Regions from separate parts of the Homo sapiens genome. Here region 1 is linked to region 2. Evidence: fine-mapped expression QTL. A gene starts in region 2. The other region holds a variant in brackets. All regions are shown on one strand. Distances are from middle to middle.

Region 1 (3,003 bases), 69 kb after region 2:
GGGCAACGAAAGTGAAACTCCATCTCAAAAAAAAATTAGCTAGGCGTGGTGGCACGTGCCTGTATTCCCAGCTACTCAGGAGGCTGAGACAGGAGAATCACTTGAACCTGGGAAGCAGAGGTTGCAGTGAGCCAAGATTGCGCCATTGCACTCCAGCCTGGGCAACATGAGCAAAACTCTGTCTCAAAAAAATAAAATAAAATAAAATAAAAATAAACAAAAACATTAAGCTGGGCGCGGTGGCTCACACCTGTAATCCCAGCACTTTGGGAGGCTGAGGTGGGCAGATCACCTGAGGTCAGGCGTTCAAGACCAGCCTGACCAACATGGTGAAACCCCATCTCTACTAAAATACAAAAATTAGCTGGGCATAGTGGCAGGCGCCTGTAATCTCAGCTACTTGGGAGGCTGATGGGGGAGAATCACTTGAAACCAGGAGGCGGAGGTTGCAGTGAGCTGAGATCGTGCCATTGCACTCCAGCCTGGCAACAGACTGAGACTCTGTCTCAAAAAACAAAACAAAACAAAACAAAACAAAAAACAAAACAGGCCGGGCGCGGTGGCTCATGCCTCTAATCCTAGCACTTTGGGAGGCCGAGGCAGGTGGATCACGAGGTCAGGAGTTCGAGACCATCCTGGCCAACATGGTGAAACCCTGTCTCTACTAAAATACAAAAAATTAGCCTGGTGTGGTGGCATGTGCCTGTAGTCGCAGCTACTCAGGAGGCTGAGACAGGAGAATCGCTTGAACCCAGGAGGTGGAGGTTGCAGTGAGCTGAGATCATGCCATTGCACTCCAGCCTGGGCAACACTGTGAGACACCATCTCAAAAGAAAAAAAACATTAGCCGGGTGTGGTGGTGCGCGCCTGTGGTCCCTGCTACTTGGGAGGCTGAGGCAGGAGGATGGCTGGAGCCCAGGCTGTTGAGGCTCCAGCGAGCTGTGATCACACCACTGCACTCCAGCTGGGCAACAGAGCGAGACCTTGTTTCTAAAAAAAAAAAAAAAAAAAAAAAAAAGGAAAGCAAAAGCAAAAGCAGTCCACAAAAGATGGGCTAGTCAGGACTCTTCCCCGCCCCCAGGGCCTCACCAAGGACGTAGATTCTCCCCTGGTGGACAGTGATCCCCAGGGCACTTCGCCGGTGCTTCATGGGGGCTACGAAAGTCCACGTCTCTGTTTCCACATCGTAGCGCTCCACGCTGTTCAGCTGGTCCTGACCATCATAGCCCCCAGCAGCATAGATACAGTTGTGCAGGACGCAGACGCCTAAAGGGCACCATGCAGAGAAGGTGACTCTGGGGGTCTGGCTTTGGGAACCCCAGCCATCACCTCCTTGAGGGAGACCTTTCCTCTCTCCTCTCCCTTCTCACCCTCAGAAATGAAGCGGGGAGAGAGAGAAGCTTGGACTCTATCAGAATCCAGGGCTTCTGTGGTTACCCCAGCATGAGGGTTGCAACAGGGGGTCTCTCCCAGGCCTGGCTCAGTTTCACCCCAGGATGGTAGGGGGTGTTCCTGGGTGCTCCCCTCCCTACCGTCCCCACCCACCTGCCCCGCTTCGGATGGTGTTCATTGCTGTGATCATTCGCCACTCGTTCCTCTCTGGGTAGTAACACTCAGCTGAATTAAGGCGGTTTGTCCC[G/A]TCAAAGCCCCCCACGGCATAAAGGAGACGATTGAGGACAGCCACGCCCACCCCGATCCTTCGTGTCAGCATTGGGGCCACCAAGTGCCACTCATCCCGCTCTGGCTCATACCTGCAAGGGCGTAAGAAAAATGGGGACAATGGCCATTATAGCTGACCTTCGTGGAATACTTAAGGGCCAGATACTCTTTTTTTTCCTTTTTTTTTTCCCCCTTAAAGAGACAGGTTCATCCGGCGCGATGGCTCATGCCTGTAATCCCAGCACTTTGGGAGGCCGAGGAGGGCGGATCACCTGAGCTCAGGAGTTTGAGACCAGCCTGGCCAACATGGTAAAAACCTGTCTCTACTAAAAGTACAAAAATTAGCTGGGTGTGATGGCAGATGCCTGTAATCCCAGCTACTCGGGAGGCTGAGGCGAGATAATCACTTGAACCTGGGAGGCGGAGGTTGCAGCGAGCTGAGATCATGCCACTGCACTCCAACCTGGGCAACAGAGCGAGACTCCATCTCAAAAAAAAAAAAAGAAAAAAAGAGACAGGGTCTTGCTCCGTTGTCCAGGCTGGAGTGCAGTGGTGCAATCACTGAAGCTTCAAACTTTTTTTTTTTTTTTTTTTTTGAGATGGAGTGCAATGGTGAGAGCATGGCTCACTGCAACCTCCACCTCCTGGGTTCAAGCAGTTATTCAGCCTCAGCCTCACAAGTAGCTGGGATAACAGGCACCCACCACCACGCCCGGCTAATTTTTGTATTTTTAGTAGAAATTGGGTTTCGCCATGTTGGCCAGGCTGGTCTCAAACACCTGACCTCAAGTGATCTGCCTGCCTCAGCTTTCCAAAGGGCTGGGATTATAGGCATGAGCCACCACACCCAGCCTGCAGCTATCAACTCTTGGGCTCAAGGAACCCTCCTGGCTCAGCCTCCTGAGTAGCTGGGACTACAGGTGCACACCACCGTGCCCACCTCCACTCGAACTCTAGTGCTTGCAGTTGTTCTCCAAGGATTGAGGTATCAGCAACTCCATTTTCCAAATGACAAAACTGAGCCTCCTAGCCATCAATTGCTCAAGTTCAAAAACACATCTGATAAACCCCTAGTGGCTCAGCCAGATCCCCCACTTCACAGATAACAAGATAACATCTCAGAAAGGAGAAATCACACATTCAGCATCACTCTTTGATGCTCAAAGAGTCCTTTAGGTCCGGCACAGTGGCTCACACCTGTAATCGCAGCACTTTGGGAGGTTGAGGTGGGAGAATCCCTTGAGGACAGGAGTTCAAGACCAGCCTGGCCAACATGGTGAAACCCCATCTCTACAAAAAATACAAAAATTAACCAGGCGTGGTGGTGGGTACTTGTAGTCCCAG
Region 2 (2,500 bases):
ACTCGGATCCCGCTCGCTCTCTGCTTGCTCGCTCGGCGCGGCGCTGGGGGAGGCGGGAGCGTGAGTCACGGCGACTCCCGATTTAGGTGCCGGAAGGGGGGCTCTGCTGGCGGGGGCCGCAGGGAGGAGGCTCGCCTGTTTACTCGCCTGAAAAGGGCACGGGGGTGCGCTCCGCGGCTACCTGGGACCTTCCTCAGTTTACCTCTGGCAGAAGCGCTTTAGAAGAGGCAGCGATGTATAGAGCGGTGGGCCGGCAGCTGCGGTATCCGCCACAGGGTGTCTTCCTGGAGCCACAAGGGAACCAATGGGACACACCCCAGAAACACCCCAGAGGCCCCAGGCCGACCACACACATACACTCACGCACACGCACACACTAACATACATAGACGTCCTCCGACACTACAGTCAGACGACAGAGGCCGAATCGCGTGCACAACTCCGCAAGCACACACCGACCACAAACGCATCCAAGCGCTTGAGAACACATTCACAGTCCCCAGGCCACCTGAAAAAAGACCACGTAGGGATGCACATCCTCCAAATAGGTAGCACATGTGCGCACACATCCTTCACCCACAGACACACACAGTTATACACACAGCCAAATCCAGAGAAACGGGCAGACAACAGCAGCCAACCACGTGCGCACACACACTTCCAGCCGACACTGAAAACACAGACAACCCTCGGAAGAGGCCACGTGCGCGCACATCCCGCCCCGGGCCCGCACCATCACTATCCTCCGACGCACAGACAGGAGATCCCACACACTCTGCCGCCGCCCGCTGCAGGTACCGCGCCGGTGGCACTAGGACCACTCCTCAAAAACTGCCCCCCGCCAGGGGTAGCGGCGAGGACACGCCAACACCGGACTCCGCCCTCGCCATGATGGACCGACTGACTGACACTCTGGCAACCAGTCCGGTGTCTGCTTCCAGATCGGATTAACCGTTTAACTCCTTCGTGCCTGTGCGCGCCGCGGCCAAGCAGGGTGCTTTGAAGACAGACGAGTTCCAGCGCCCCCTCCCAGCCCGGAGCGGGGATCTGCGTGGGCGGGAAGGGCCCCCCTCCTTAGGTAGCTGCCCCCCGCTGGCCCGGACGGAGGAGGAGGGGGGCGGCGCTGACAGCCGCGGCGGGCGGGGGGCGGGGAGGGGCGGGACGGGGCGGAGGAGCCGGGGCTGGCGCCGAGCGGGCCGCGGAACGCGGAGCGCGGAGCGCGGAGAGCGCCGCCGGGCACTGAGCAGAGCTCCAGGCGCCGAAAGGAAGCTGCAGAGCCCGGCCCGGGGGCGATTGGCCCGCAGCGCCCCCGGGTCTGTCCCCGGGGCGCCATGGCCCTACCGCGGCCGGGCGCACCCGCGGGGCCCTGGGCTCGCTGGCTTGCGCGCAGCTGAGCGGGGTGTAGGTTGGAAGGGCCAGGGCCCCCTGGGGCGCAAGTGGGGGCCGGCGCCATGGAACCCCCGACCGTCCCCTCGGAAAGGAGCCTGTCTCTGTCACTGCCCGGGCCCCGGGAGGGCCAGGCCACCCTGAAGCCTCCCCCGCAGCACCTGTGGCGGCAGCCTCGGACCCCCATCCGTATCCAGCAGCGCGGCTACTCCGACAGCGCGGAGCGCGCCGAGCGGGAGCGGCAGCCGCACCGGCCCATAGAGCGCGCCGATGCCATGGACACCAGCGACCGGCCCGGCCTGCGCACGACCCGCATGTCCTGGCCCTCGTCCTTCCATGGCACTGGCACCGGCAGCGGCGGCGCGGGCGGAGGCAGCAGCAGGCGGTAAGACTCCCCGCGGCGGATGCGCGCGGAACGGATGGGCGCGCAGGGAGGAGGCAACTCGAGCTGCCGGCCGCAGGGGGCGCTAGGATGCGGGTGGGGTCGGTTTGGCTGGCGGGGGCGGAGGGAATTCGGCTGCGGGGGCGTCTGGGACCTGGCCCCTGGTTGTGCGCTCTACGGGAGGCTTCCTGCTGAAGCCCATCCTGGGGTCCATTTAGGGGGCGCCACGCTGCGCGTGGTGTTAACGAGGTCTGGGTTGGGGAAGGGGGCTGCACACTTAGGGGTCTGTATTCTTGGTGACAGTGCAGAACAGCTGCTAAGCTGGGAACCACTTGGAGGGACCTTCCTGGGGGCACTATACTGAGGGCTAGATTCGCAGTGTTTGGGGTACTCTTGGAGCACTCCATAAGGGGGTGCCTGCTAGGACCAGGATCTTTACTTCAGGGTGGGGTGCTCTCAGGGTCCTTCTAGGGGATGGAGGACTCTATTGCGGGGATGTTAGTGGACTCCTCCTGCAGCAGCTGGGGTCAGAAATCCAGAGGGTGCCTCTTGGGGGAGCACTGTTTTGGGAGCCTTGCGTTAGATTGGAGTTCCCCTCTCAGGGCAAGAGTGTTAGCGTTAAGTAGCTGTTCAGAGGCAGGAAACAGTGGAGGGGGGGCGCAGTCCCAGCACAGAGGGAAGGAGTCCCTGACTGCAGAGGTGACAGCATAGTGAGGGTGCATGTGTGTTGAG

Evidence for each region. PIP is the estimated chance that this variant, and not a neighbour inherited with it, causes the effect.
Region 1: its variant is the best candidate, but not a certain one, in a credible set for the expression of PDE4A in liver (GTEx, PIP 0.72).

The regions. Positions count from the first base shown.
Region 1 is chr19:10,488,103-10,491,105 of GRCh38, forward strand. KEAP1 (kelch like ECH associated protein 1) reads right to left here. Exons shown (of 6, transcript NM_203500.2): 4 at 1,546-1,751; 5 at 1,090-1,266. Among named protein-coding and RNA genes, the nearest start is that of KEAP1, 14 kb to the right of the region's middle. The variant G/A (reference allele first, on the strand shown) is at 1,640.
Region 2 is chr19:10,419,314-10,421,813 of GRCh38, forward strand. It overlaps PDE4A (phosphodiesterase 4A), which reads left to right and starts at 1,225. Exons shown (of 15, transcript NM_001111307.2): 1 at 1,225-1,771. The coding sequence starts at 1,452. RefSeq lists enhancers at 18-897, 2,078-2,267 and silencers at 1,118-1,587, 1,818-1,867.